Linked DNA regions of Homo sapiens: regions 2, 3, 4, 5 and 6 are each reported to be linked to region 1. Evidence: microRNA targets listed by miRTarBase, many of them from high-throughput screens and not tested one by one. Region 1 holds a microRNA gene; each other region holds the end of a gene's coding sequence. Distances are from middle to middle.

The links. Region 1 holds the annotated microRNA hsa-miR-4282 (UAAAAUUUGCAUCCAGGA, at 3,620-3,637, opposite strand). A microRNA usually pairs through its seed, bases 2 to 8, with sites in the 3' UTR of a target mRNA and lowers its output. Matches are read on the target gene's strand: a 7mer-m8 pairs with bases 2 to 8, a 7mer-A1 pairs with bases 2 to 7 and ends in A, and an 8mer does both.
Region 2: miRTarBase lists TIMD4 as a target of hsa-miR-4282. The part of its 3' UTR that is shown has no 7-base or 8-base seed match.
Region 3: the mRNA of NUTF2 is a reported target of hsa-miR-4282. Seed matches in the 3' UTR shown: 7mer-m8 at 798-804.
Region 4: the mRNA of CENPQ is a reported target of hsa-miR-4282. Seed matches in the 3' UTR shown: 8mer at 4,413-4,420.
Region 5: miRTarBase lists CCDC171 as a target of hsa-miR-4282. The part of its 3' UTR that is shown has no 7-base or 8-base seed match.
Region 6: miRTarBase lists SCOC as a target of hsa-miR-4282. Seed matches in the 3' UTR shown: 7mer-A1 at 1,582-1,588, 7mer-m8 at 1,875-1,881 and 8mer at 4,386-4,393.

The regions. Positions count from the first base shown.
Region 1 is chr6:72,964,078-72,969,733 of GRCh38, forward strand. MIR4282 (microRNA 4282) reads right to left here and starts at 3,676; the gene lies at 3,610-3,676. All of the region lies in intron 1 of KCNQ5 (potassium voltage-gated channel subfamily Q member 5), which reads left to right. The region is part of intron 3 of LOC105377855 (a long non-coding RNA gene); the gene reads right to left.
Region 2 is chr5:156,915,152-156,920,807 of GRCh38, forward strand. TIMD4 (T cell immunoglobulin and mucin domain containing 4) reads right to left here. Exons shown (of 9, transcript NM_138379.3): 8 at 5,313-5,352; 9 at 4,141-4,390. The coding sequence ends at 4,306. Among named protein-coding and RNA genes, the nearest start is that of TIMD4, 45 kb to the right of the region's middle. RefSeq lists an enhancer at 5,643-5,656.
Region 3 is chr16:67,870,506-67,875,866 of GRCh38, forward strand. NUTF2 (nuclear transport factor 2) reads left to right here. Exons shown (of 5, transcript NM_005796.3): 5 at 295-2,062. The coding sequence ends at 408. EDC4 (enhancer of mRNA decapping 4) reads left to right here and starts at 2,547. Exons shown (of 29, transcript NM_014329.5): 1 at 2,547-2,838. The coding sequence starts at 2,757. RefSeq lists a silencer at 2,660-2,869 and an enhancer at 2,763-3,263.
Region 4 is chr6:49,491,622-49,497,242 of GRCh38, reverse strand. It overlaps CENPQ (centromere protein Q), which reads right to left. Exons shown (of 9, transcript NM_018132.4): 9 at 4,136-5,099. The coding sequence ends at 4,968. Among named protein-coding and RNA genes, the nearest start is that of GLYATL3, 5.5 kb to the left of the region's middle.
Region 5 is chr9:15,971,500-15,975,499 of GRCh38, reverse strand. CCDC171 (coiled-coil domain containing 171) reads right to left here. Exons shown (of 26, transcript NM_173550.4): 26 at 1,463-3,891. The coding sequence ends at 3,664. Among named protein-coding and RNA genes, the nearest start is that of LINC03041, 300 kb to the left of the region's middle.
Region 6 is chr4:140,379,998-140,385,653 of GRCh38, forward strand. SCOC (short coiled-coil protein) reads left to right here. Exons shown (of 4, transcript NM_001153484.2): 4 at 965-5,656. The coding sequence ends at 1,107. Among named protein-coding and RNA genes, the nearest start is that of SCOC, 9.2 kb to the left of the region's middle.

The sequences.
Region 1 (5,656 bases):
AATATTTACTTAAATGAATCATAGCAATGCTGTCTTGACCACTTTTACAACATTAGTTCTCAAGCCAGTGAGTTTCTTGGCAGCTTTGTATTTATTCAATCAGTGTACTCAGTAAACGTAATTGTGCCCTGATAGACTTTTAAATGTAAGTTATCAAACATTAAAAATGATGGCATCATTTAAGCTGCTCACTTTACTCCTCTGGATGACCCTTGCAATTTCATGTGGATTATTATAGAGATCTGGTCAAATGTTTTGTATTAATCAATAGTAGGAACAAGCCTCATTACTCTCAAGTTTCTAAGAATATTTGCAGCCTTCATAGGTTTTCATGTTGTAATTCTGTTTATTTGTTGATTCTAAAACAAACCACCTTTATTCATAGTGAAAATATGCCTTAGGGTACAGAAAGACATTATTTGTATATGAACTATAAATACCTTATTGATTTCCTATCCTTGGTGATTACAAGAAAATATTCATTTAAGATCATCTCTTATATAATTTAATAACAGCAATACCATTCTTTGCTTTTTAAATAAAAAAGTTATGATACTTAGAATTTTACATATTTTGAAATTTATATGTAATTTATACAGAGTTGATCCTCAATATTATTAGTGTATTCCATGTTTGCAAATTTGCTAACCCACTAAAAATGTATTTATGAGGTGAAATAACACCTATGGCACCTTTGTGGCCCTTTACAGAGCAACAAAAAAATTTTAGTCTCCCAACATTCGGGTTCTCAACTGAGTTTGAACAAACTGACACTCTTGTCTTCTTGTTTCAGCACTCACACTGTAAACATGTGTCCCTTGCAAGACCTATTTTCTGCTGTTTTTCACATTTTCGTGCTTTTTTTAAAAAAAAATTCTTTTTTGGTTTACGTTTTATTTATCTATTTGTTTATTTTGTAGAAATTGGGTCTCACTACGTTTCCTAGGCTGGTCTCAAACTCCTGGTCTCAAGTGATCCTCCCACCTCGGCCTCGAGTGCTGGGGTTACAGGCATGCTCAGCCTTTTGTGCTTTTTGTTGATAATTTCACCACTTAAAATTGGCCCCAAGAGTAGTGCTGAAGTGCTGTCTACTGTTCCAAAGCACAAGAAGGCTGTGATGAGCCTCTTGGAGAAAACACAGTTGGTTAGATAAGCTTCTTTCAGGCATGAGTTACAGTGCTCTTGGCTGTGAGTTCAACATTAGTGAATCAACAATATTAAATAACGTATCATTAAATGGAAGCACAGGTAAAACAATAATATGTATTGATAAGTTGATAAAACTGATGAGACCAGAGGCTCCTGGGGACTTAGTCCTGTATATCCCTACGAGCAATGGCTTGGTATTTACTAATTCAGTGTTTGTAGTGACTTTACAGAACATAACTGCCACTGCAAATAATGAGAAATGGCTGTATCTCCTTCTGTTTTTTTCTTTCCTAGAAGCCATTTTCTCAACATTTCATCGTGAACTATTATGGCCTCATCGGGAATGTGAAGTGTGTCATCTGAGCAGATGTTCTTATTGTTTTCCTATCCACTGACCCACAGCATCAAACAATTTAGAGGAGAAAAGTGGTCCTGTCATCTCCAGAGTTATTATCTATTTTATTTTTAAATCCAAACTTCCACAATCAAGTTGCTATTAAGGTTTATCTTATTAGCATTTAAATTTTTAGGAAATGCTCATTACTGGGTTAAGCACAAAAAAGTCACATTGCTTGAAAAGTGCTATTTGTAAAACAGAATGGCCCACTTTGTCTATGTGTAAGAGGATCTGCTGCACATTTTTACCTGGAATAATATTGTCATGGATTTGGACATATGTGGAAGTGCTATTTGTGTTTATGCAGATCAACCTCTTGGTTTTACAGAAGAGAGATGCCAGTCCCAGGGAGGTTAAAGTGCCTGCCCAAGGCCGTGTGCTGGAGCAGAAGGGGAGGTGCTGCCTCCAGTCGAGTTAGAGCACTTCCCACCATCCACCACCATCAGGTCCTGAAGCCAAATACAGAAGATAGCATATATTTTTATTACTTTGAGATATCATCCTGAGCCCAAGAAGAATTTCTTGTTGCTGTCTCATAAATATATTACTTTGTTATTTATTAGTTTAGGCAGTTTATGACTAGCAGTCAAATATTCCCAATAAGGTTCGAATCAAAAATGTTATTTTGTTTTTGTATTATAAAAAGAAAAGCAGGCTAGGTGTGGTGGCTCATGCCTGTAATCCCAGAACTTTGGGAGGCCAAGGCGGGCGGATCACCTGAAGTTAGGAGTTCGAAACTAGCCTGGCCAACATGGTGAAACCCTGTCTCTATTAAAAATAACAAAAAAAAAAAAAATAGTTGGGCATGGTGGCAGGCGCCTGTAATCCCAGCTACTCAGGAGGCTGAGGAAGGAGAATCTCTTGAACCCGGGAGGCAGAGGTTGCAGTGAGGCAAGATCACCACACTGCACTTCAGCCTCGGTGACAAGAGTGAAACTCCATCAAAGAAAGAAAGAAAGAAAAAGAGAGAGAGAAAAAAAAGAAAAGCATATTTTGAAAGGTATCCTCTTAAATTTGTGGTGACCCTCAAATATTTATGCTAAAACTTAACTTTCAGTATGGAAACAGAAACATGGGTTCAATTTAAAATCCATGACTGGATCATGAGCAGGGCAAAGTGAGAGGCATTGTGAGATAGGGCCAAATGCTTCGAGAATTTACTCCATACAGACTGTGTTCAGGAACCCAGCACTTCCTCTGTGACTCAATAACTGGCACATATGGTTGCCAGGGACTACCAACAGCTGATTTCAATAAAAGTTACCCAATTACACCTTGAAGACCTGTTGTTTCTGGAGGGAGTTGGAGGAATTAAGGAATGTGGACTGAGTTTTTAAAATATATCTTACAGAAGTCAGAGGAAGATATAGAAGGACAGGAATATACTCAAGATACAATATTTTCTTCTACTGTACTTTTTGTTACATGGAACAGAATTTTAGCATTGGATCCCTTCAGCTGTGACAAAGGAGAAGGTCCATGGTTATAAAGTTTTCCATTAGACTCTCCTCACACACAGGAAATGAACTTCCATAAATTTAATGATATGACTCTTAGGGTTTTATTTCTCCCATTTTATAACCCTCTTTAGGATAGAAACACATTTCTTGCACTATAAAAATTTTAGTCAGCAAATTTTTCATATTCTCACTGGGATTTCATAATCAGTCTGTACACCCTTCCTATGCAATAACTTTTGATCAGTATAGTGAAATATAATGGTATTATGTAATTTTAAGATGTACATCTTAAAGACAAAAAAATATCCCTTTATTTAATTCAAGATAAATAAATCAGTGAGGAAAATGTATGGTGAAAAGTTTGGGCATATATTAGTTATCTTTCAATATATTTTTCATTTTTTTCTTTTTATTTCCTTCAACCATATGATGCAATCAACGGATATTTGTTGGGTGCTTTGATGTTTTCAGATCTATGCTATGCACTACAAGGGTCTCAAAAAGGAATGAAGAACAAAGTCCCTGCTCTCAAGAATGTAGAGTTTTCCATACAAGGTTCTAAAAACCATTAAGGTCACTTAAGATATCAGTCAGAAGGTGAATAGGATGATGTTCCTGGATGCAAATTTTAGAAATGTGGCATACTAAAATCTTCCCCTGGAACTTCACCATTCACACCTAAGAAGTTAAAGATGTCTCAGTAGGTTCTCACTATGTTGTCTAGGCAGGTCTCAAACTTCTGGCCTCAAGAGATCCCTATACCTTGGCCTCCCAACGTGTGGAGGTTACAGGCATAAGCCACTGCACCTGACCCATTTTCTCCTTCTGAAAACTCTTTTGGATTTTAGGATACCATGTTCTTTGGATTCTTCCCTGCTTACTCTGACCTTCCTTCTTGACCCTCACTGTCTCTTCCTCATTCGCAGGGCCACTTCTCCTTAGCGACCCCAACACAACCAAGTCTCAAAATTGGACATCTGATATATGTGACAAAGATATGTTTTCATTTATATAAAATGTGAATAGAAACTTACATACACACACACAAACATACAAACACACACACACTCACAGTGTCTCAGAAGTTCTGCAACAAAGAAATACAGTTATTGTCATTGAACCCAGAACTCCCTAAGTGTTTTTGACAGAGCAACTTTTTCTTGAGACAGATCTATAAAAATCTCTTGGGATAGTGGTGTTCTATGGAAAACAGTCTGGGGAATACTGAATTAGAGAACCGTGTGAGACATTTTATTATTAACATGCAAACTCAAAGTACTGAAAGTGTAGAGAAGAGAAATATCATTATGATCTAGACGGGTGAAGAAAAGAATCTCAAAGGAGGATAGACTTTTAAAGAAATAAGTGAAAAAAAAAACAGAACATGTGATGAGGAGGGGGAAATTCAGATTATATCTCCCAAATTGATGATATTGATTATTTGAAAGAGGAAGGCAAAGGTGTAGACAATGATTATTAGGGACTTTGACTTTCTAAGTTATACATTTCTATATTGTTTATGTACTTGTTTTTACAAAGTTTTACAAATGTTTTATGAAGTGGCTTATTCTTATAATCCAGAGATATTCTCCTAAAACTAACTAAAGTTTATTTATCAGATTAACTAATGATGTGTATAGCTCTTACTTCCACAATTATCCATATATACATATATGCAATATTTACAAACATAGAGATGTACAAATATAATATCTCGGCCAAAAATAATTGAAGCATCAAAGTCAACCTACATTGTAATCTTGGGCAGCACCTGTTGTTTATTCATCTCTCAAGTGTGGCTGACTTCAGGGATGAGAATAAACAATGTGATCTCTTACTAAGCTTCCCTTTGGACTAGTCATCCAATTGGTATGTGATGACTTTATACCTGAAACTAAGGAGTTGAGGAATAAGCTGAAAATAGCCAACTTGGGTTTCCTAAGTACAGTTTGGCTTCTGTAAGAACTGTTTGGTTGCTCCTCAATTTCAGTGTATTCATTTTTTAAAGTATATTTATTTTAAAAGTGGCAAATTCAGGTATTACTTAATAATTAAGAAGCATTTATGCCCAAACACAATATATGTTTACAACCAAATTTGAAAGTAATTGAACTGATAACCCTTTAGACAAAGGAGATGTGTTATAATAAATATTATTGTCAGCTTTCCTTCATCTTAAGATTTTTTGAATCTTGGAAGAAGATATGCATGAACTTTGTGTTGGGTATTTATAAATGTATACACATATATACATAGCAAAATGTAAGCACAATACAGGTATAACATGTAAGGTTAGACCATGTAAACTTGCTGAAATTCAGTTGTTTCTGACCTACAATAATGGCAATTTCATATGGTTGAACCTAATGGTTTGTCTCAGTCATTAGTTAGTGGTGCCTCCTCCCCTAGGTAGAGTTTTCCAATTGTGTTGGGATGGTATTTTCACTCTTGTAACATTCCCAACTTGTATCAGAATTCCCTTCATCTTCCCTCCTCTACTTTTATATTATTCTATTCCGTCATTTTTCTCCTAGATACGACTGGACAGATTGTTTACTTATAGCAGTCCCTATATGTTAATCCATTTCTTTGGTCAACAAATTCTCAAACATCAGACCTTAAAGGTCAAAGAAAATCCCTGTGTTGAATT
Region 2 (5,656 bases), not on the chromosome of region 1:
ATCATTAGCTGTAAGAAGCACATACTGCATCACATTCCTTCCTTATGGAAATGGAAAAACAACATTGATTCCATTCGATTGCATTACCTTTTTGTTTGTTTGTTTGTTTTTTGAGACAGACACAGTCTTAATCCGTTTCCCAGGCTGGAGTGCAATGGTGCGATCTCGGCTCACTGCAACCTCCTCCTCCCAGGTTCAACCGATTTTCCTGCCTCAGCCTCCCGAGTAGCTGGAATTACAGGCACCTGCCACCAAGCTTAGCTAATTTTTGTATTTTGGGTAGAGACAGGGTTTCGCCATGTTGGCCAGGCTGGTCTCAAACTCCTGGCCTCAAGTGATGTGCCACCTCGGCCTCCCAAAGTGCTGGGATTACAGGTGTGAGCCACTGCACCCGGCCTATTCTATTGCATTTCCCATGTGTGTTTTGTCTCATTCAGAAGTGAAGCTCCTTAAAAGAAGCAATTCTCTCTCCTGGGCCCCACATACAATAGATACCAAAAAGTTATTTATAGATGCTAACAATTCATCCTGATTACACAAAGAGGGAATGAGAGGAGCAACTACATCCACAGCCTCCTCTGATCAAGGAGTCTCAGTATAAGAATTATATATTTATTTTAATTCATCTTTTACTAAAATCCACCCTTTATCCCCAGTCTCAAACTGGCTACCTTGTTTTAGCCCACAGCCATGTTTTGCTTGCCCAGGAAATCATTTTAACTAATTTTAAATTTTAATGCCCTTAAGTGGACATACACTCCGATTTATCATGGGCCATGTCATCTCCCTTTGACTCCCTCAACTGTATCAGCTGCCTGGCCTCTAAATTCATCAGAGTTTGCCACCTCTGCCCCAGGCAGAGCTAAGTGTGCTGCTTCTAGGTAGGTCTAGGGGCCAAGGATGAAAAGGGCTGGAAGACAGGAGACAGGAGACCCATACCTGTATTGAAAGAGGGTATCTCTGCCACAGCATGGAGAACAGACAGGAAAAGGAGTAAAGTCAGAGATTATAATTAGGAAGATACTGCAGGAATCCAGCCAGAAAGTGCTATCAGCTTAAAGGAGATGAAGCAGCAGGACCTTTGCCCCTGGTACTGGAAGCTCCTGACCCTCTGTCTGGCCAAGCCCACCACCACACAGCCCTGGTAAAGGGAGATTGTTTTCTTGAACACTTTATCTGTTAGGAATTACTACAGTGCAACATTTCTCAAACTCTAACGCACATCAGAATCATCTGGAGGGTCTGTTAAAACACAGTTTGCTAGACTCTACCCCCAGAGTTTCTGATTCTGGAGGTATGGGGTGAAGGACATGAATCTGCATTTCTATCAAGTACCAGTGACACGGAGGCTGCTGGTCTGAAGTGCATAGTTTGAGAGCCACCGGGCTAGACCAGCATTTTTCAGAACTTGGTTCCATATTAGAACCACTTTGGGACATTTTTCAAAAATTCAGATGCCCAAGTCATACCCTGGACCAATTACAGAAAGAATCTCTTAAAGGGTAGGACTCAGGAATTGGCATTTAAAAAGCTCCCCAGTTGATTATTCAGCTAACATTGAGAACTACTAGGACAGAGGCTCCTGGAGGCCATTACGAGCTCTAAAATACTATGATTGCTCATGTTAGTGTTTCTTAGTCGGTACAAGGAGTTTCAGAAATACATTTGGGAATCGATTGAAAATACCCCTTTGCAAAACAGAAAAGTAATATTCATTGAGTTTAAATGTTCTGTTTAGGAAGTGTCTGTCGTCTTCTTTTTCTAGTCAGACCCAAGCTGGTAGTGACATTGATAATGGCGGTGGTTTTGGAAGGTGGATAGGGAGCATGAGCTAAGTTAGGGTTGGGTGTATCATTACCTCACAAGATACTATAACCTGACTACATACACAAAGCCATCTGGCCCCACTCCATTTTCTAGATGGGGAAATTCAGGCCCTGAACCTGGCTCTAGACCCACTTCCCCAACGTTTCTAAATAAATGTTTGAGTTTAGCACACTAGACAAAGTCACTTTAAGTATCTTAAGCTGACATCAAAGCCAAGTTGACCAAAAAAAAAAAAAAATTTTTTTTTTAAAAAAAGGGCCAGGCACAGTGGCTCACGCCTGTAATCCCAGAACTTTGGGAGGCCAAGGCAGGCAGATCACCTAAGGTCAGGAGCTCGAGACCAGTCTGGCCAACATGGCAAAACCCATCTCTACTAAAAATATAAAAAATTAGCCAGGTGTGGTGGCGGGCGCCTGTAATCCCAGCTGCTTGGGAGGCTGAGGCAGGAGAATCGTTTGAACCCACCAGGCAGAGGTTGCAGTTAGCCAAGATCATGCAATTGCACTCCAGCCTGGGCAACAACAGCAAAACTCCGTCTCGAAAAGACGAGAAAAGAAAAGAGAAGAGAAAAAGAAAAGAAACAGCTGCCAATCTGCTGCTAATTGTTTTCATCATTGGTGCCAATCATTCTGCCCAACTGCAACTGAACAAGTCAGAAGTCAGGCTGCCTTGGGCCAGTTTTTCCAAGTACCCAGGTGAGGGGGATTTTTACTAACTGTTGGATCAGTGTTGTGTGAACTAATAGGACAAAAAAATCTATAGGCTTCACCAGTCAAGTAATTAGACTGACTTTTTTCTCTCTTAAATGTAATGTCAAGAGAGTTGAAATCCAAAGATGGCTACATTTAGAGAACCACGTACTTATTCCATTAATGTTGCTATTGCTGTAAACATGCTGGGAAGTCCTTCACAGAAATGTCTTTCAGATCTGGTTTACTTTCCACATTTCTACCCAGCCAGAAGCCCCTCTCACTCAGGCACACATGTTTTTTATACATTCATTCAACAACTGTTTGCTTTAATCTCTCTCCCATGGCTCCTCGTGTTAGCAGTTATTAAAGTTTTAAAATAAACCTGTTGTTGCTGAGGAGCACATTTCCAAGATTATATTTAGAGAAACTTATTTGGATTGCCTTGCTTTCACATCCACGCACTGCCCCTGGTTGAATATTCCTGTCATTCACCACATTTTACTCCCACGGACTCTTCCCTGTTTCCAAAATTAAATTCCCCAAGCAAGAACTAGGATGTGACACTATGGTCACCTCTAAAGACACTCAAATGTGAAAAGAAAATAATAGAAAATTTAGGAGTTTTAGAAGTGAGTCAATGTTGGCCAAGTGCAGTGGCCCAAGCCTGTAATCCCAGCACTCGGGGAGGCTGAGGCAGGCAGATTACCTGAGGTCAGGAGCTAGAGACCCACCTGGCCAATACAGTGAAACCCCATCTCTACTAAAAATACAAAAATTGGTGGTCATGGTGGCATGCACCTGTAAGCCCAGCTGCTCAATCAGGAGGCTTAGGCAGGAGAATCGCTTGAACCCGGGAGGCGGAGGTTGCAGTGAGCAGAGATTGTCCATTGCACTCCAGCCTGGGCAACAGAGCAAGACTCCGTCTCAAGAAAGAAAATAAAGAAGTGAGTCACAGTTACGGTGTGATTCCATGTCATTTCCTGCATTGTTAATGAACCATAGGCTCTGTGCTGCTCATATCATACCTGCAGTGAGACAATGAACTCTGAAAGCTGGGCATAAAAGGAGAGATACGAATCCATACGAGATGAAGGCAATTAGGGTAACAAAAGAACCAGAAATTGTATCCCAGAAGCAAGGAAATTTGGAGAAACATGAGATTCTCCTTCTAATACCTGAAGAGTTAACAGCTCTCCAGTACTTCCCAGCATGCTTAGAGCAATAGCAACATTAATGGAATAAGCACATGTTTCTCCAAAGGTAACCATCTTTTGGATTTCTACTCTCTTGACATTACCTTTAAGAGAGAAAAAAAAAAATCAGTCTTATTGACTGATGGAGCCTATAGATTTTTTGTCCTGTTAGTTCACACAACACTGATCCGGCAGTTAATAAAGGAGATGTTCTGATAGGCATAAGGAGCTCAACTATGACCTATGGGCAGATGTCATCCGGAGACAGATTTTGCTATAAATATTTCTTAATCTCAGAACTGCTCTGAGATTGAATGGACTCCCTTGCGTGTGGTAAGGAGTTCACTGTCACTGAAAGTGTTCAAGTGTACTGTGAAAGATCACTTAGCGGTGATTCTACAGAGATGATTAGAGCATGGACAGAGAAGTTGTGGTCTCTAAAGTACCCTTCATTCATGAAACTAAAGCAAGCCTGGATCAATGACATCCATGGAATAAGTGAGTCTTTTTTATGAAACAAGGAAATCTACTAAGACTTATTTTGACACTGGAGTGTCATGCCCCCATCCTCAATCTAACATGCTACTGCGTTGTTAGAGGGTAAAAAGGCCGTCTTCGTCTTCCCTTCCATGCTGCACGTCATTGAGGACATTTTTACTATCTCCAATGTAGTCTAGCCTGTAAACAGAAAAGAGGGGCTCATAATGGGAAACACAAGACTAGAAAACAAAACAAAACAGATGCTGCTAAGTTACAGTGCAATTACCCTTAAAGTTCAAAGGGCTCACAGTTCATTTAGTCTAAGCTCCACATTTTACAGATGGGAAAACTGAGGCTGCAGGGGAAAAAGAGTTTCTGCCAATCCATTATAATGAGATAAAAAAGATTCTTAGCAAAATATAAAATCATGATTTCAATACGTTTATTTACCAAAAGGTCTCTAAGTGTGACCTTGAAAGGTCACCTCGCTGGGTGTCAATTTTCCTTCTTGCTAATACATATTGTGGTATTAATGCAACTAATTAGTGAATGCAATTAATTAGGCAAGGACTTCATTAATAATTTATGCCTTTTTTAAAAATTTCTTTTCCAAAAGCTATAGAATAGGGCAAATAGCTAAAATCCCTTACTAGAGAATCTTCAAATACTATTTTTAAAAAGGCCCCAAAACAAGCTGCTTCCATGGTCTAACTGGGCAGAGGAACCAACTCCCAGGAATAATATTCTACATGCTTTTTTCATTTTCCATATTGCCAACGCTCCTCAATAAACTCCAGTTTAACAATGGCCTCTTAAACTAACTTACCCATAGGTGAACAAAAAATTTCAGAGTAAAGTGCCATATCACCTTCTTTCTTTTGCGTGCTATACTTCTATTAATCCCACCTGCCTTGGTACTGGCATTTTGCTCAGAGTGTTAACCAAGACACAGGTTAATGTGAGCTAAATCTGCACAACTTTTTCACTTCTAATGTCACATCTTTCCAACTCTATGTGTAATCGTAACACAAGCTCAAGTCATTAAACCACTGAGTAGTAGCTAATCATTTGTAACAGCTTGTACAATCATTACAACACCCATTCATGCAAGATAGATTACCTTGTGTGTTTCTGCGAACAATAGGTTTCCATGAGTTTCCCTGAAAAGACAAGGCCACAGTGTGAGCAGAGTGGCTGCGGTGCATAGAACATGCAAAATGCTGGGGGAATTCCAGTGCTGCCCCGCAAAGAGCAGATATGGGCCAAAGGTGAGAACCAGTGGCTGGCTTTGGCAGAAAAAGCCATTCCCTTTCCCAGGTCAAACACTTGCTATTTTAACCACAGTTAGTGCTCATCAATTACCAAGTTGTTCCAACATTCTGGGCAATGGTGTTAAGCTATTTCATTCTGAGTCATCTGCCTATCCAGAATTCAAGCACTCACTTGGGTTTCAAAACACTTCTT
Region 3 (5,361 bases), not on the chromosome of region 1:
GGAGGCAGGTACATCCTCTGCTCTTTTGCTGTAGCTAAGGGTGAATTATTGTGCAGTTTAAGCACACATAGCACACATAGGCGTGGCTGATTGTTGGCCTACATGTGCCCAGGGCATTGTTTCATACATTACATCAATTCACATTCACAAGTACCCCTTGGCTACACTGGGATTTGAGTTCAGGACAGTAGGGCCTGATCCTAAAGTCAACATTTTTTTGCCCTCTTCTCCTACCACTGAATTCCCTTCCTGTTTCTTGATCCCCTTACTGAATCCTCTTTTCTCTCCTCATAGGCGGATGAAGACCCCATCATGGGGTTCCACCAGATGTTCCTATTAAAGAACATCAACGATGCTTGGGTTTGCACCAATGACATGTTCAGGCTCGCCCTGCACAACTTTGGCTGACCTCCTCTCAGCTAGGCACTCACGCTGTTTCCTCCTCCCTCCTCTTCCCAATACTATTCCCACTCCTCCAGATGCTCCAAATATCATGCACAAATGAGCAGGGCCGCGGTGGGAGTGGGCGCAGTGCGCTGCTGCCACTGAGGTGTTGTGCATGATGTTTGGATGCTAGACTAGTTGCATCTGACGGGAGAAGTTTGTGTTGTACCAGCGCATGCCTTGGAAAGACTTAAGTAATGCAAAAGGTTGTCCTTTTTTTTTTTTTTTTTTTTTTAATCTACTGACAAGTTGCTCTAGTAACCCAAAGAAGTGAAGGAGAAAGCAGCTGCCTCACCGCCCAGACATTGATTTGTTCAGATGTTTCAATGCCTCATGATACAATAAAACCACAAAAATTTTCTTAACAGTTTAAATTGTTTTAATTAGTTTACTAGTTGGCTGGGCATCAGAAGCTACCCAGACCCGTTGTCTCTCTCATGTTTCACCCTCCCACTTCTGCCCCAACTCTGAATACCTGTTGCAGGGAGAAACTGCTGAAGCAGCACTCCCAGCTAGCCTCTCAGAAGCCGTGTAGGGCAGTTCTCTCCCACTCCACAGGGCGACTGGTCTTTGGAAAGCAGGCAGGAAGAGCTCAGGTCTGGCCTGAAGCTTCTCTCACTGAAGCCTGTGCAGTCAGTTCTGATACCTCCTGTGACTTCTGCTCTGGGTAGGTTCAGGGCCCTAGTAGCAGGAGAGATGATCCTGAATCCTGTTGAAGCTGGAGAGGCCTTGGCAAAATGGCTCATCACGTTCAGGCCCTCCGGGCTGAGTTGTCAGCAGTATCAAGGGAGGGGCCTGCTCTATCCCCAGAAGGATCAGGATCATATCCAGGATGCCCCACATACACCAAGCCAGGCAGAGGGCAGCTCAGCTCCTGTCCCATCTGCTTTGGATATCTTTACCCAAAGGCAGGTAACCCGAAGAGCCAGCCTCCACTGCCCACAGAGCCAGGCCCAGTTGTGTTGGAGTATAGGTCAGGAGCTGTGGAAGGAGGCAGTCTGTGAGGGACTCATGCTTTAGGAGTCCTCACCCCTCAGACTGCTGCAGGACATTGCCAGGCCTCTCTCCACTTCCTTCCTCAGCATACAGACTTCATGCTATCTTCCAATTCCGGGGAGTCTTAGCTATTAGGGCAGTTTCTGCTTCTCCATTTTGGGGACAAAGGCCTTGCCCAGTACAAATCTAGCCCCTTGTCCCACAGACTTCTGGATGGTATAAACCTAGTGGCAATGTAGCAACCATAGGCTAGAACCAAACCCAAGATTTGGGTCAGTGCCCTGTTAAGGGTTTTAGGATTGGTAAGGACACCACAGCTAAATCTGACATGTAAAAGGATACCCTTCCCCTGTCCCACTACGGGTGGAGGCTAAGGACCTCCTCAGATCCCACAGATTGCCTGGTGACATTGGGCACAGGGCTGGATGGTGTGCTGTTTGAGAGGACAGCATGCTCAGGAGATTTCAGTGGGAATGATCTCTAGGCTGATGTGTATTTGGGGAAGTGGGGGTGGGGAAGAGGTAGGTGCCTGCTGCCTCAAACCACCTTGTGTAAAATCTGCAATACGGCTTCTTCCATGTACCTGTGCCTGAACTGTCTGCAATAAAGAAGAATTTGTAAACTGTGGTTTCTTTCTTCCAACCTGAGGGTGCCAGGTGGGACAAGGGGATGCTGGGGGACAGTAGGGAACAATGACTGGTCATTGTAGTGGGATCATCTCCCCTGCTCTTGCAATTCCTGAGTTTTATGACCTCGAGGGTAGCCTCAGGCCTTGAGTTATTCCGACCCATTCCCAAAGGGAACCTGAGGCACCTGCCAATTCAGCATATTCTGGGGGTCTGAGGGACCTTAGCATGGGCGGCTAAGTTGACCCCGTCCCAGGACCATCGGAGTCCATGCTCTGGGAGTGGGCAGGGACCTGGCGCCTTCTGAGTCGAGTAGGGCTTTAGGTGGCCCAGTGCGTGGACGCTTACTTCAGCCCCGTGGGACTTTCCTGACCTCGCGGACACAGGGGCGGGGCCGCCGAGGGGGACTGGCTGCGGGAGGGGTTTAGGCTTCCGCCCCCAGCCCGGAACCTTTCTTCTCCGGCCCTGGCAGGTTCCGGGAGCCTCGGCTCGTGGGTGCCGGAAGTGGAGGCGGTTGGTGGGGTTGGCGGGGCTCAGCGACGCTGCGCGGGTGGCGGTTTGCGAACTGCGGGTGGACTGTGTAGTGACCGGCGTCCCGCTGTCTCGCCCCGTGGCGGGTGAGCGAGGGTGCGTGGTGCGCGGCGGCGGCGGAACGAACGCGGTGCGGGCGGGGCGCCCGCCGCAGGGCCCATGGCCTCCTGCGCGAGCATCGACATCGAGGACGCCACGCAGCACCTGCGGGACATCCTCAAGCTGGACCGGCCCGCGGGCGGTGAGCGGGGGTTGCGGGGGTGGGCCCCAGGCGAGCTGACAAAAGGGCGGCGCGCGTCTGAACCGCCATTGGGGCCCACAGCTCCCTTAGGACTAGCTCTGGATCCTCCCGGCGGGTAAGGGTGGACGGGGATTGACTGTGCCCCTCGAAGGGCGCAGACCCCTGGGTGTGACCCCTCCCTATCTTGTCCTCAGGCTGTTCTGCCTTGTCCTTCAGCGTCTCGGTTGAAGGTGAGGCGCCTTCTCTGAATCCGCTGGGGCCCTCTGGTTTCCTGGCCCCGAGGTCTCTAGTGTTCCTGGGACTGGCCTAGCTCCTCTTCCCTTTCTCCATGGTTCAGAGGCCTGGTCTGGGCTCCGTATATGGAATTCTGGGCCCAGGCTTAAGCGCGATGCTGAAGAGCTGCCGGTCCCCCTCCATAACTTGCCCTTCTCTCTGGAATAAAGACTCCAGGCCTCCCGTTCTGAAACTGATTTCCAGGAGGAAGGTGTCCAGTCTCAATTCCGTGTTCTTTCTGGGATGAAGGCAAATCACAGACCGCACCACCCTGACTGAATTATGCTACAAATATCTGCAAGCCCTAATTGGTTCCCATTCATTCATATTTCGCTTTGGCTCTTAATGATACCTCAGAACTAGTCTTGCCCCCAAAGATTCCCCAAGACACAGCTAACAGGGTTGTAATATACTGTTGTCATTGAAAGAAAGGAGTGTCTCGATACTGTGATGGGCGTGGGAAGGGTGGAGGCTGGTGAGTGCAGAGTGCAGGTCTGAGAGGGGAGACTGGGCTAGGTCTTGTAATGTGAACAGGGGCTTGGGTGTCAGGAAAGGCACCCAAGGCACCTATGGAGAAGCCACCTATTAGGAAGAGGAAATAGCACGTGTGCAGGCACTAGTTTACTGACAGGTTTAGGGATCTCTGAAGTGGCCGGTGATGATGGTGTGGGCGTACAGTGGAGAATTGTGTTTCCTCAGATCTTGTTCTTACACCTGCTGGGAGGCCCAGACTGGCTGCTTCTGGAAGCAGGCACTGGTGCTCACTAGGGGTGGATTCAACTAACCCCTACTTTCAGAAAATCCATCTGCTGCCTGAGACCACTCGGCCCTTTGTCCCAGGCCTGGAGTGTGTGCCCTCTTTACTCATGAGTTGGGCGTGGACCTCTCCTGCTGCTCAGCTGCTTTGTAGACTAGACTCCGCAGAGATTTGGTAGAGCCTGGCATGGCCAACCATGTACAGCCTGAGCCTGCTTTTTGGTTGTCCTCATGGTACCCTTCATGGAAGGGAGAGTTGTCAGCTTGTCCCTGAGCAGCTAAAGTGGCTCTGATCTGAATGAAGTGGCCTGGAGGCTTTCCTTATAACTACTTTGTTTATTGATTGGCACTTGATTCCCTTGTTTGCCAAGCAGCTCTTTCTTGTCTCCTCTCACTGGACGACCAGGTCAGAACTCAGACTATTGAGGACTGGGCGCGGTGGCTCACACCTGTAATCCCAGCACTTTGGGAGGCCGAGGTGGGTGGATTGCTTGAGGCCAGGAGTTCGAGACCAGCCTGGCCAACATGGTTTCTTAACATGGTGAAACCTTATCTCTACTAAAAATATAAAAATTAGGTGAGCTGTAATCCCAGCTACTTGGGAGGCTGATGCAGGAGAATCCCTTGAACCCAGGGGGTAGAGGTTGCCATGAGCCGAGATCGCGCCAAAATAATTCAAAGACTGTTGTGACTGGAAACTTGCTATGTTCTGAATGTGGAGCCCTAGGCTCCTTGCCACCTGGGGATTTTGGAAATGGTGTCTGAGCCTATGAGAGTGTTTGAAACCCAGCCAGTTGCAAAGAACTGAAATGCTGTCTTTCCTTACTCCACACGCTGCCCCATAGTTTCTCTCCTTTTGGTCCAGCTCCTTTATGTCCCTGCCTTCTGTGTTTACTTGCCCAAGATAGCTTCTTCTGAGCCATTTCTGTGTGGGGCAGCCCCTTCCACATCTTACCAGTGCCCTTCCATGCCTTAGGAGCCCATCTTCTCTCCAAACTCTGACACTACATTGGTCTAGGCCTTGATCTCTCTCACCCAGATTCTCAACCATTCTGCATGCTATCTTAGAGTAATCTTCCCACTGGCCAGAACTGACCACATCACCTTCCCTTTTGAAACTCTTTATGGTTCTCATGGCCCACAGGGAGAGTCTAAGTGCCACGGCATCATACCTGATGCCTCTGTAGCTTTGTTTTCACTCCATCCTTCCTGTGTTTGTGTGTTCTGGTCACACTAACTGCTGTATAAAGTCTTTCCTGACCCCTCCTATGCCCTCACTCAGTCCACAGAGTTCTTCTGTAGTGACCCAGACCTGAGTATTCACTGCCCTCAAAGGGTCCTTGATGGCTTGTACCCCTCCCCCAGGTAGAAGAGCCTCATGCTCATCCTTGGTCCTGCCTACATCAGTGTTTATGGAACGAGAGATGAACACAGGGCCCTCCTCCTCATGGACATGCTTTGCTCAGTTGAGTGTTCCTAGAGCACCTCATAGTT
Region 4 (5,621 bases), 23 Mb from region 1:
CTTTTTCCCGTCTTCGTCAATTTGATAGGTGAAAATATGTTTTAATTTGCATTTAAATGGTGAAGTTAAGGTTGATCATCTTTCAAATACTTATGGATGTTTTCCTTTGAGAATTGCCCATTTTCCTATTTGTATTTAACCTATTTGTTAATGATATTTCAGAGCTCTTTATTTAAAAAAGTTTTATTTCTTTGTTTTATTTATATTGTAGATATTTTCCTATTTGTGATGTGTCTTTGGCTTGATTTTGTTTTATTTTTATTTTTTATTTTTTGAGACAGTCTCACTCTGTTGCCCAAGCTGGAGTGCAGTGGCACGATCTCATCTCACTACAACCTCTGCCTCCCAGGGTCAAGCGATTCTCCTGCCCCAGCCTCCTGAGTAGCTGGGATTACAGGCATGCACCATCATGCCCGGCTAATTTTTGTATTTTTAGTAGAGACAGGGTTTCACCATGTTGGCCAGGCTGGTCTCGAACTCCTGACCTCAGGTGATCCACCCACCTCGGCCTCCCAAAGTGCTGGGATTACAGGCATGAACTGCCATGCCCGGCCGGTTTTGTATTTTTAAAAATCTTATTTCAAAAAGTTCAAAATATTATGTAATAATCTTTCATGATTTTACTTTTGCTTATATGCATAATAGGGCATTTGCTACCCTGACATCCACTGTTCATTTCTTTCTTTTTAGCTTCTATTTTTATATTTAACTTTATTTAGTGGGAATGTACTTAGGCATAAAGTAGGAATATTAAACATCCTCTCACCCTCCATTATGTAGTTAGCCAGTTTTATGAAGACCATTTATTAATAAATATTTTTCTGTATTTCATTTGAAATGCCATCTTTATCATATGCTACATTTTAATACAATATATCCTCTATCTCAAAAGTGTATTTTTTTTGTTATTGTTTAAGTTTCTGACATTGGCATTTATCAGTCACTAGAGAAGAGATGTATCATAGTTGGCATGGGCTGTGCATGGGAGAACTTAGATGGCTGAGGTCACTACAGAGGAGGACTGTTATTTGAATTATTGGGACCATGTATAGTCAAAGTTTATTTATTTCTTTATTTTTATTTTTTTGAGATGGAGTCTCACTCTGTCACCTAGGCTGGAGTGTAGTGTCACTATCTGGGCTAACTGCAATCTCTGCCTCCCGGGTTCACGCGAGTCTCCTGCCTCAGCCTCCTGATTAGAGGAGCCCGCCACTGCGCCCGGCTAATTTTGGTATTTTTAGTAGAGACGGGGTTTCACCATGTTGGCCAGGCTGGTCTCGAACTCCTGACCTCAGGTGATCTGCCCGCCTCAGCCTCCCAAAGTGCTGAGATTACAGGTGTGAGCCACTGCGCCCGGCAGTTTAATTTTATTTGGATCTTGTCTTGGGTCTCTTTAGTGTTGCCATAAAGGAATACCTGAGGCTGGGTATTTTATAAACAAAAGAGATTTATTTGGCTCATCGTTCTGTAGGCTGCACAAAAAGCACGGTGCCAGCATCTGCTTCTGGCCAGGGACTCAGGCTGCTTCTACTCATGGTGGAATGTGAAGGGGAGCTGGCATTTGCAGATCATGTGGTGAGAGAGAAAACAAGAAAGAGATGGGGAGATGCTAGGCTTTTTAACAAGCAGTTCTCATGGGAACCAAGAGAACTTATTTACTCCTGGGAGAATGTCACCAAGCCATTCATGGGGGATCTGTTCCCAAATTTCTCCCATCTGGCCCCACCTCCAATATTGGGCATCAAATTTCAACATAAGATTTGGTGGCATGAAAAACAAATCTCATGTCTTTCTTGCATTGCAAAATACAATTATTCCATCCCCCAAAGTCTTAACTTGTTCCAGCATCAACTCAAAAGTCTAAAGTCTCATTTGAGACTCAAGGCAAGTTCCTTACAACTGTGAACCTGTAAAATAAAAAAAGAAGTTATTTACTTCCAAGATACAGTGGTGGTGCAGACATTCCCATTCCAAAAGGGAGGAATAGGCCAGAAGAAAGGGGTAATAGGCCTCATGTGAGTCCCAAACCTATCAGGACAGATATTAAATATTAAAGCTCCAAAATAATCTGCTTTGACTCCATGTCCCGCATCCTAAGAACACTGGTTCAAGGGGTGGGTTCCAGAGCCTCAGGCATCCCCATCCCCATGGCTTTGCTGGGTGCAGCCCACGTAGCTGCTCTCGTGGGTTGGAATCCAATACCTGCAGCTCTTCCAGGCTGAGATTGTAAGCTGTTGGTGGCTCTACCATTCTGAGGTTGGAGAGTGGTGCCCCTGCTCCATCTGCTCCACTAGGCACTTCTCTAGTAGAGGCTCTCAGACCCTGTGGCAGCCTTCTTTCTGGGCACCCAGGCTTTCTAATACATCCTCTCAAATGTAAGTGGAAGCTGCCAAGTCTCCACTACTCTTGCATTCTGCATGCTTGCAGACTTAACACCACATGGAAGTCTCCAAGGCTTACTGGGTACACCTTCCAGAGCAGCAGCCTGAGGCCCTTTGAGCTGGTGCCGCTGGGGTGTGGGGAGCAGTATCACCTGCCCCATCAAAAAGCCATTCTTTCATTCTAAACTTCTTAATCTGTGATGGGAGGGGTGGCAAAGATTTCTGAAATAGCTTTGAGACATTTTTTCCATAGTCTTATTAGCACCTGGCCCTTTTTAGTCATGCTCATCTCTTTAGCAAACTATTGCTGCTGCTTGGTCATACTCTTAGATTCCTCTCCTAAAAACACTCTTCTTTCCTTCTCTAACACAAGGCAAGGCTGCACATTTTCCAATTTTCCTCTGGTCTCTACTGTAAGCAGTTAGAAGTAACCATGCAGCAGCCTGAGCACTTTGCTGGTTAGAAATTTCTTTTCCCAGATACCCTAGGCCATCTCTTAAATGAAGCCTTCCATAAAGCCCTAGAGCATGGACACAATGCAGACAAGTTCTTTGCTACGGTGTAACAAGTGTGACTTTTGCTTCAGTAACTTATAAGTTCATCATTTCCATCTAAGGCTTCCTCAGTATGACCTTTGCTGTCTCTTTTTCTATAAGCATTTTGGTACACAACTACTTAACCAATCTCTAAGAAGTTCTACACTTTCCCTTGTCTTCCCTGTTTTCTCCTGAACCCTCCAAACTCTTCCAACCTCTGCCTATTACCCAGTTCAAAAGCTACTCCCACATTTTCAGGCATCTTTAGAGCAATGCCTCACTCCTGAATACCAATTTTCTTAGTATGTTTAGTGTTGCTATAAAGGAATATTTAAGGCTGGGTAATTTATTAATGAAGAGATTTGGCTCATGTTTCTGCAGGCTGTACAAGAAGCATGGCACCAGCATCTATGGCACCACGCCATTCATGAGCGATCCACGCCATGATCTAAACAACTCCCACCAGGCCCCGCTTCCAATATTGGGGATCAAATTTCAACATGAGGTTGGTGGGGCCAAATAAACCCTAGGCAAACCATAACAGATCTGTAATTAATTCTTAAATTCTTTCCAAAGAGTACACCAAAATGCAGTCTTATTTAAAGAAAATACTGTGTATGTTTTGGATTGGATGCTACCTACCAGAAGATATTGTAGATCTCTTAAAGTTAGATTATAAACTCTTCAAAGCTACAAGAGTAGTATGGCCAGTTCACACAGGGTGAAGAACTGTATCACTCAGCAACAATGGTAAGTTAAAATCCCAGTTAACTATCAGTTATCTGTTAAACAGATGCCCTGAGAGAAATGGCATACATAATTCCTCCCCCACCACCAAAAGCTACTATAACATTAGTGTTAAAAATCACTGAGTTAGGGCTCTACTACTCATTCTAAAAACATGAAGCTTTAAGTTTCCAAGTGAAGGGTTTTTAAGACATTTTGTAATAATCTTTACTTTTAGTCACTTTGCCAGGTTTTTCTTTGAGATTTTATTTTCCTCCAAAATCTATTAATAGGCCTTCTTTACCATTATTCCTATGAGGATATTGCTTGTGACCCTTTTCTTGAGCTGCCCCAGGGTCCTCATGTGTGATCTCCTCACTACACTGAAAACCCAACTTGTTTAACTACAGGTTTGTTGCCAGTGGTCTCTGCCTGAAGGGTGTTAACAGAATTATGGCATCTCCCAAATTAACTGATATTATAGGTCACATAAAAAAGTAATTGCAGTCATTTTATTTTACAGACTAAAAAAAAAAAAAAAAACCCAAGACAGTATACTGTAGTTTGTTAGAAATAATTTTTTATACACTAGGTTATAACTTATTCACATATATAAGCTTATTATCATAATAAGAAAAGGTTTATATATTTTGGGTTTTCTTGTTTTAATAAAATAAATGTGCTAAGGTTCCTTTTTAATACTTTTTGGGAATATGTTTTGATGACAGTAGAAAATATTCAACATTAATTCACTAAACAACCAAAGAAGTAAAATTTTGATACTACCTCCAAAGTTAAAGATAGCAGGCATATCTTAACTACTTCCCAAAAAGACTAGGGAGTTAGGTAAAAGAGTGAAGGCATTTGAGGATTTTTCAAGTTCCAGATGACCAGACAGAAACTGTAAGCCATTGGCTACAGAATGAATGATAGCAAACACTAAGGTTTTTATGCACTAGACAGTGTATGTAAACACTTACTTATCACAGCTCCTGATATGAGCTGTTAACCAATAAATGAGTTCCATTCAGGCATTATAAACTACTAGATCCTTAAGGCAATTCCTATTTTATGGTTTTAGGCAAATACTTATAGATACAGCAATATAAATGTTAGTTTCCTAGATTTGGCAACTGCTAAAAACAGTCTTCAGAACTACATTAGATGCTAATGATAGAACTACAAAGACTAATTTTAAAGTGCATATCAGGAGATAATAAATCCTGCAGAAGCCTTAGCCTCTGTACATATAATCATAGGTTAACAGTTTTACAAATTCACGAACATTAAATTAATATGGAACAATCTAAAAAAAAAACACTCTTTAAGATGCATCCAGTTTCTTATAGGCTTCTTCAATGAAGGTTGACATGCTCTTCATCTGTGATGAATTATGAAGAATATCCAAGTCCTTTAGAAGAGCATTCTGGTTTGGAATTAGCGCCAAAATTTCTTTCTGTGGGAAAGATAGTATTAAATGTAGTTGTTAACATTTTATTATGAGAAATCTCAAATGTATGTTAGAGAGAACAGTAAAATAAACCTTAAGTATCTATCATCCAACTTCAATAATTGTCAACGAATCGCCATTCTTCTTTCAAATCTATCTCTCCCTCTCCCCATCCTGCTCCTTTCACCACTGGTAAATGATAGGATTTGTTTGTTTGTTTGTTTTTGTTTTTTTGAGGTGGAGTTTTGCTCTTCTTGCCCAGGCTGGAGTACAATGGCGCAGTCCTGGCTCACTGCAACCTCCAGCTCCCAGGTTCAAGCAATTCTCCTGCCTCAGCCTCCCGAATAGCTGGGATTACAGGCATGTGCCACCACACCTGGCTAATTTTGTATTTTTAGTAGAGATGGGGTTTCTCCATGTTGGTCAGGCTGTTCTCGAACTCCTGACCTCAGGCAATCCGCCTGCCTTGGCCTCCCAAAGTGCTGGGATTACAGGTGTGAGCCACTGTGCCCAGCCAATAGGAAAATT
Region 5 (4,000 bases), not on the chromosome of region 1:
AAATAGTGCTAGTATGTATGTATTTTGTTTTGTCTAATCAATTCATAAGAAATCTAGATTTCAAACCAAAACATACTTATCAAAATTATTCCTAGCTGGTCAGGACAATTAAAAAAAATTTTTTTTTCTCTTTAAAAAGTGTTAATTATTTCTGGAAGGCAGGACTAGCAGTGTTTCAAAATAATGTGGACTTTGGAATTGCAGCTCTAGGCTTACTAATTCCTAGGTTATGTATGATCTTTGGTAGCCAAAAGCTTAACATTTTTGATCCTCAGTTATTCATGTCTAAAATGGTGATGGAAACTCCTATGCTAGAGGTTTGTTGTGAGATCATTAGTTTTGCTATAATAACTGGCATAAAACAGTTGCTTGATAAATATTAATTATCTTCCACCTTTTATATTAGAAAACTTGTCTATAAAAAGTGCACAGTGAGGGCACAGTGGTACGCATCTGTAGTCCCTGGTACTCAGGAGGCTGAGGTGGGAGGATCACTTGAGCCCAGGAGTTCAAGACCGGCCTGGGCAACGTTGTGAGAGCCCATCTCTTAAAAAAAGAATAAGTGCACAGTGAAATAGGATCAACTTCCTATTGTTCAGTATGGTCTACAGAATGAATTCAGACAACTGGTAAATGAAGTAATATGAAAATACTAATAATCTCATTAAACATTCAATAATAGCATATGTCATAAATATGAAATAGGAAATAGAGTTGCTAAGTTTAATAAGAGTCAGATATTTGGTAAATTAAAGTGATCATTCTATTTAAAAGGTTATTTATTTATGTCATTAAGTTATCACTGAACTGGCAATTTTTGCAATCCTAAACCTCTTTGTTTTTATATTATGTCATTCCAAAATACATGTATTAAAAATGTCAGCAACTCCACAATATGTAAGTGTGACTCAGGTATCAGAACAATAACTTTAAGAATTAATAGTGATAGGTGATATAGGTGTGTTTCTAGATCACAGAAAGTTAGCAGGAAAATCCACATTCGGAAGTGTAAAGTAAAACTTCCTTTCCTCTACAAAAATATTTGAAGTCATTATCCTGAGATATGTCTACTCTATACATCATTCTTAAAAAGATAAAGAAGCTGATACAGCAACTGTCCTTGCCGACACAACAGAGATCTCAAATATGCAGCAATTGGTCACTAAGGTGCTTAGAAGCAGTCTAGAGTTTCTCAGATCTCCATAGGATATGTCATTAAATCTTCTCCTCCTGCTGGGTCTGACTTCTGGGAAAAAAGCATATGGTATAAATATTACTATATTTGGTAGTGAATACTAATGATCGCTCAGGAGGTTCATCCTTCAGTTTCTATGGCCTTTAGCATCTAGTTGCTTATAAATGTGACATGCTTTGATTTGATTTAATCATAATTTACGAATTTTGAATTTGTGGTTCAGAATTCACTGTACAAAATGTACCTGTAAAGTTAGATACCCATATATATGGAGACACATACACATTTATTTTTGGAGTTATCCCATTAACAGATTATAAAATCAAGGCAAGAAGACCAAGGCCTTTCCAAGGCACATTTTACAAAGCTGCTTGTTCCTCTAAAATCAGTAGGATCTGAAAACAGATTCAACACAAGCATACACACACACAAACACTTAGACATAGAGGTTACATATAGTAACCTTGTTCTTCTCTAGTGAGAATTGTAAGCTCAGTGATATCACATGAACTAAAAAATTGTCTATCAATTTCTGTATGAACAATATCCTAATCATTGTTTGGAACAGCAGAGAAAGGTGTTCTGAAATGTGCAGAAATTATATGATCTGTATAAAAACAATAAATAGCACTTCCATGTTATAATAAATTTGCAAGTTGAATTTCATACAGGTCATGTTACACAGGTCATATTAAAAATAATTCCAAGGAAAGAATTAAGAGAAATTTGGTTAAAGATATAATTTTACTCCATATAAGCTTTCTAAAGTTTTATATAAAGCTAATTATAGTGGTTCAGTATTACAAGAATAGGATGTGTTACACAGTACGACAGTAATACTGCTGTGTTCCCTCAGATGGCATAAATCACTTGGCTAATTTGGCTACTAATAAATAGTTAGTATAAAATCTTATTTACCAAGGCCAATAAAAAAATTCTCAGCAGTTGGGTAATTTGAATCAAATGTCACTGTAAAGATAAGACAAAAAAACTTCTGTAATACATACTGTTATACTCTAATGTATCCATAATGAAAGATTCCATAATGAAAAATAATATAAAAAATAGATTATGTATCAAGACTCTTTGTCAAAAGCTATAGTTCACATCAGAAGTTAATAGCACTAGGGAGTTAAATGATTAATACAAAAACAAATTCTTACTACAAATATTCTTTTGTTCTTCACTTACCATGATGCAAACTGCAAGGATTTAACCTTTAAGGGTTAAAGAGTTTAATCAATGTCAATGTCTGATCTTCTGAAGGCGATAAAGAACAGTCTGTCTAGCGATACCCAACAGAACATCACTTTGTCAAGCCACAAAGCACCCAAAAGCTTGTCAAGTAAGTTACCAGAAACCTCTTTGTGGTTAGAACTCAGCTCCTTCCTGCTTGACCTATTATTTGATATTTGACCACTTGGTTGCAAGACACTTGCTCTTTCTAGCTGAAATGTCACTGGGGCATCTTGTCAGCTCCCCGACATCTCGGCCTGACATACAATTTTACTTTTGTGTGCTACAAGGCAGAAAATGCAGGGCAATGGCCTTGTTTTAAATTCTGTCAGCATCAAAGATGGGTGTCACTCTTGGGTCCTACCAACAACAAAAACAAAAAAGGAGTCTATTTTGAAGGTCAAAACAGCCATTACCTTGAAGTTTTTCAGCTTATACTAAATATATTACCTGCTATCCTAGTGTGGGAACTGTCCTTATGAAGTGCCTAAACATACCACAGAAATCCTCCAGCACAATTGCTCTACTTTCTTATCAAATGCAGACTTGCTAAAAGAATGAGTTTTCAGTGCCTTCAGGGACCAGATTCAGCAGTTAACTTAACTTGTTCAAATGGGCAAGTGGTATCATGTAGCTTTACAAGGAGCAACCTGACCTTCTCACATTGACCAGGAGTGACATTATTGTGCAGGAGGAGAAGCAGTCACATCATTTCTGTTTTGCACAACCTGCTTAAAGTTTGCAACTAAATGCTTGTCTTCAGTTGAGCTGACAAGAGAGAAGAGGGGGCTCAGTGAACCATGGCCGGGCTGCCATGAAATGACAGGAATCATTGGCATACATTTCAAATAGCTCTCTCAATCCTATTAAAGCATTGCAGTCCTGCTTTAAAATAGACAAGTATGAAACAACTTTGATAGATAGAGACTAAAATGGCTTATTGATTTTTTTAAGTCTGAGGGAAATTACCCAAAATGTGTCATTCCTTAACATTTAAAAATATGTTACATAAAAATGAGCAACTGTGATAACAAATAAAACTTGGAGAGAAAAAAGTTGGCTATTTCCTTATTCAAGGAGACAGAGCTACCAGAATACATCAAGATAGCGCACAAATTTTTTAAATCCACTGCCACTTCTGCTGAAACAAAAGTCAACTGATAAGAAAATTCCCATTCAAAACAATTTTAATTGTACTGTTAACTCTTCCTCCATTTTTTAATTTCATGAAGTCATAATCCAATCTGAGTTGGTCTGTTGGCATTAGCAGACATAGTCACTGGAGAGGAGTGAGATGATGTCAGAGCATGGGGCACAGTATTTATAAATGTCTCCTTTAAGAAAGTGTAAGTAGTATCAAGTTCAGCTTTCAATGGTAAGAAATCCCCAATACCAGTTGTGTCAGCAGGAAGAGGAGCTCTTGAAGGAATGGAGAGATTTGAATGGTCTCGTGATCCTATCTGTGACATACAAAAGAAAAAAATAATAAACATAGAGTTGAAAACTCTCAAATAGAGCCTAAAACCATAAACAGGCAAGTAGACTAATAATCATTATAATATAAAAATG
Region 6 (5,656 bases), not on the chromosome of region 1:
CTGAATTTTTTCATTTTCTAAATCTTGCATAAAATTAATACACTGAAACATCTTTTGAGTTTTAATGAAATTAAGAGGTTGTGTTTTTGGTGCCACAGTGAGCAGATCATGTCACTCAGAACCTCCCACTGATTTACATTTTACAGAGTTAATAAAAGTCATCTGTGACTTCCCTATTAGCTTTCTTTTTCTTTTTCTTTTTTTTTTTTTTTTTTTTTGAGATGGAGTTCACTCTTGTTGCCCAGGTTGGAGTGCAATGGCGCAACCTCGGCTCCCTGCAACCTCTGCCTCCCAGGTTCAAGCGATTCTCCTGTCTCAGCCTCCCGAGTAGCTGGGATTACAGGCACCTGCTACCATGCCTAGCTAATTTTTTTGTATTTTTAGTAGAGATAGGGTTTCACTATGTTGGCCAGGCTGGTCTCAAACTCCTGACCTCATGATCCACCCGCCTCGGCCTCCCAAAGTGCTGGGATTACAGGTGCGAGCCACCGTGCCCAGCCGGAATTAACCTCTTATGTGATCATCAGGAACTGCATGTGTTCAATGTCTTGATAATGTTACAATACAAGATGATAAGTTGCTTGGAAACTGACTGCCTGTATTCAGTATATGAATTCAGTTGTGTTAACCTGATATATATCTTAAACATTTCTAGTAAAGATGTTATAGTTTTATGTTGATAAGACATGAACCAAAATTCACATTTTAAAAACAAAGTCTTTTTAAAAAATTACTCAACATTAATGCTATTTATGAAGAATAGCATTTAGTCTAATGTGAAATATCTTTTTAGGAATTTGTCTACTAATTTGTACTCAGTTTGTTTACCTTGCTGTCTCTAAAATCCGAATTCTTAAAATTTAAGGATTGTATTATTTCTTTTAAGAATGAATCCTAAGAATTTTGTAATATGGAATCATTGTCATTGTTTTATTGATAATGGGCATTTTTATTTTTTATATAGATCTCTCTGCAAGAGTAGATGCAGTTAAGGAAGAAAATCTGAAGCTAAAATCAGAAAACCAAGTTCTTGGACAATATATAGAAAATCTCATGTCAGCTTCTAGTGTTTTTCAAACAACTGACACAAAAAGCAAAAGAAAGTAAGGGATTGACACCCTTCTGTTTTATGGAATTGCTGCTGATCATTTTTTCTTTAAAACTTGGATAGATTCCAAAAGTTACAGTACCTTTGTGGCTTCATTGAATATTTATGAAGATAATGTCAGATGTAGACAAAAATAACACAATAACAGGAGACTTCCATAAGTTTGTGTATTATGTTAGTCTATGAAAACGTGCAAATGTATTGTAGAGACTTTATGATTAGAATTGCATATATTTATGAAACTTAAAGATGAATGTTTTATTGAATTTGTAGGTTTAGCACTGTCTTTTATTATAGGATTAGTAAGATATACAAGAAAATAACCACCGTGTTGTGAAAAAGTGACCAAAATCATGTACTAAATGCACAGCTTTATGTACCCTGTCCACCATCTTGTGCCTCTTCTCCATTTGCCTCTTCCTTCCTATTTCCCTTCCGCTAAGGAAAAAAATTGGTGTCACATTTGTAAAAGTAATTTTAATAGTTAATCATCTCTGAGAGTAACCTGTATTTTAATTGTTGAAACTTAACCAAAATAAGATACTGTCTCAGCTAGGGCTTGTCATTTGTGTATTTAGTGTTAAGATAGGAATGCTAGTGTCTCTTTAATTAATTGGAAATAGATGGAGGCTAAAAATGAAGGTTTTTCTTTGAAACTGAATTAACTTGGGAATATTTGTTGTTAAAAACTTCTTTTTGCCCAAAATAACTCATTTTGTATTATCTGAAAATATATAATTTCTGGTCATGTGTATGTTAAAATAGAAAATTTTGAGGAAAAATGGAAATAGGGTGGAAAAGTACTCGGTAAACAGTAGTAACCAAATATTTTCACTCCAGATTTGTGTTTTCTCTGGCACAGAGTAGATCTTTTGGGAAATATATATGAAAGTGGATTAAGTTTGACTACCCTTATGTTAGCCACATCTGGATGAGAACAGTTACAAAGAGTTTGGTCTCTAAGTTGATTTGTACCCAGTGGGTCAACTTCTGCAAAATTCCGTAATGGTGTATTAGTATTAGAATAGTGAATAAAATGGGAAAGTTATACATGTATACTTATTATCTTGCTCAGTATTTTATCTCACTTGTTCTAGAATTTTCTGTAAACCCTGCTACTGGGTTTGAAGAGTTTTAGTCATCCTTTAACAATTTTTAAAAATTTAGCTTCTAGATTCCATTTGGTAAGGAAATCAATATTGGAAGTATTGCTAAAATCTTATAATATGAAAAGAGATCCACTAATGTAGCTTAAGGTTATTAGATTTGGGCTTTTAATCATGGAATAATCTTATGTATTGGTGTAAGAGTTGATGAATGACTTTAGCTGTGTGAATATATAATAGTCAAACTGCAAACATTTTGCATCCCTTTTGTGACCTAATTTACAGACATTTAAATTGTGTTGCAGTTCTGCTTTGCCGTTTAATAAAAAGCTATTTCAGAGGTTGTGTGTGTTTTGATATAGTTGCCTAAGTAAATGGGGTATTTAGGTATAGTGGTGTATCCAGGGTTATTCAATGCCACAGAATAGTGTATCTTATTTAAGTACCCAGTTACTGATTATTTAGGGGAATAATATTTTTATTAATACAACTATAACTGGTTATCAATATAAATATCATAGGCTATTATACATTAATTTGGAAAACAAAAGCAAAGCACTCAAAGGATCCAGTATCTCCAGGGAAAAAGGAAGTTGTATTTTTTAGGGTAGGCTAAGCTACTTTAGCAAGAGACCCAGTGATAAAGAATATAAATATAGAAGTTTCTCTCCCAACCAGTGGTTCCAAGGTCAGCATTGCAGGCTAGCAGCCCTTGTTCAAACAGTTATTCAGGGACTTTGGCTGAGGATGGTGCTGCCATTTTAAATCATGGCTTTCAAGTCACTCTAGTTATTCTTCTAATTTGCAGAAAAAGAACATGGAAGTGTACATATGCAAGGTGTTATGGGCTGTGCCTGGAAATGGCTCATATATCTTCTCATATTCCAGTGGTGTGGAGACTTAGTTACATCTAGATACAAGAGGAGCTGAGAAATGTAGTCCCTGGCTGGGAAGCCATCTTCCAGCTATAAATACAAGATTTTGGTGGCTGCTAGCAGCCTCAGCCACAGCTCTTCTTGTGCTACCAAGTATCTTCCCTTACACAGAAAGTAATCCCTCTTCATCCAGCTAGTGATTCAGCTCACAATCTAGGATCTCTATTAAAGGTCCATCCCTTTACATGTGGCTTCTAATAGTCTGACAATCTCTAAACTGATAGGCAAATTATTTGCTCTCACCCTTGCTGCTGCCCATTTATAATGTAGTTGGGACAGGATGGCCAAATAAAAAGTCTCAATTTGGAAAATGGAATAAAGGGAAACGTAAAAATTGTGGAATGCTCCTGGGAGATGTATGAAGATTTTGTCCCTAGCAGTGGAGAAGTTCCTTGATTCAACTATGATTCTGATCTCTGGCAGGGGACTCCCTTGTTCATTGAACTCCATGGTTTCCCCTCTGGAAAGTTACTCCTTATCCATTTTCTTCCATGGCTACCTCAGAAGTAGAGATTGGGTGTTCACTCCATGGGAATTGTGAAGACAGTCCACTTCCTGCTGGTGTGAATTTGGTGCCCATCATTTTAAGGCCAAGCTCATGTTTCTGTGGAATACGATTCTCTCAAAAACTCAAGCCTTTTTATCAGTGTGCTTCTGATTGCATATGCCGAGGAACCACAACCAAGCTTTTGACCAAATTCTCAAAGTATGTATTATTTTTGCCTTTCTTTAATGGAGGCTATCTTGAGATCAACTAAAAATAAGATTACACTGGGAATGTTACATGCAGATCATCACTGCAAAGCTGGGTTCCTTTGGCTTAACGATTGGTAGAGAAGTCTTCATGGGCTTCCCCCCAATCTCCCCCACCTCAAAAATAATTTTGAACCTTTGCTGCTATTCAGACTTCAGAAACAATTGGCTTAATTTCATGAGGTTCCTTGTATCAAAACTTTGTCTATTCCCTTCTATCTTTGCTTGAAAATGTCAATTTTTTTGATACCTTGCTGAAAGCAAGGAATAGCCAATTCACTTAACATTCTGGCTTTTTCCAGCTAGAGCTATCAGATTAGTAGGTGTCAAAATATATCCCCACTGCTTGTCATGTTAATGGTAAGCTAATGCTATATACTTAGTTTTTGCTATGCAATACTTCAGGATAATTTCTTCATTAGAAATATAGGTGGTACACAGTGTGCACAGGGACTGTGTCCAGCTTCTGGAAAAGACTCGACCAAATTTTAGACAGGCACCTCTGAGCCCTGTTTTTGACTAGTCCAGTTTTAGCAAAAATCCTGCTAAATGAGTTTAGAGATAATCCCATCCTCAATAACTGATGATCGTCAACCTGGCCTGTCTTTGGCAAGAATCACCCTACTCTTGATGTCTCCAGTTAGTAGTTTTCCATCCACTGACCTCATCACTGCTCATTGACTATAAATCCTCAGTTGTATTTGCTGTGTTAGTTGAGCCCAGTTTCTTTCCCTTATTGGGTGATGGTCTTAACATATACAGTCCTGAGTAAAGTCTTCTTTACTGCTTTAACAAGTGTCAGAATGGTTTTTCCTTTAATACTTCCTAGTTTACATGCTGGTAGAATAATGTTTGGTAGGGAAAAATCAGCATACTCCTTGTTATGGACTGAATGTGTCCTCCCAAAATTCTTAGGTTGAAATCCTAACCCCAATGTGATGCTTTTAGGAGGTGGGGCTTTTGGGAGATAATTAGGTAATGAGGGTGAAACCCTCATGAATGGGATTGTGTCATTAAAAGAAACCCCAGAGAGCTCTCTTTCTGCCACATAGAAGACAGCAGTCTGCATCTTGGAAGAGGGCCCTCAACACTGATCTCTCAGACTTCCAGCTTCCAAAACTGAGAAATAAATTTGTTTATAAGCCACCCAGTCTATATTTTGTTATAGCATCCCAAATAGTTTAAGGCACCCATTTTCCCCACTGTTTCCCAATACAAATTTCCCCAGTATTGACACTGCCATTCTATGCAAAATGTGTCCTCTTTATAGTCCCTTTGGACTCACAGCAGGTTACTACACATCACAGATCCTCGTCTGAAACTTGTAGGGCCAGATGTCTTAGAATTTGGAGTTTTCCAGATTTTATAAAATATTATGACTCAGACACCAATATGGTTTGGGGCAACACCTATAATCAAGTATATTAACATTTCTGTAGCAAAATGAGTATTAAAGTAGGATAAAGAAAGACTACATATGTACATAAAACCTTGCCGGGGAAGTCAGGCTCAGCTACCAGGTGAGTTTTGTTGCCAAAATGCTAGGAAAATCTTTAACTTTTCAGAGATTTTTGGTCATGGAATTGTAGCAACAAAACCTTTTGTAGAAGAGTAACCAAAATCATGTATGCATTTAGTTCCAACTAGTTAATGTCACATCTCTATTCCTGTCACCCTTCCCTGTGATCTAGTCCCTTTTGTAAGAGAAATATGGTAGTTGAATTATAAAATCTAAAATTAATTTTGTGGTCCAA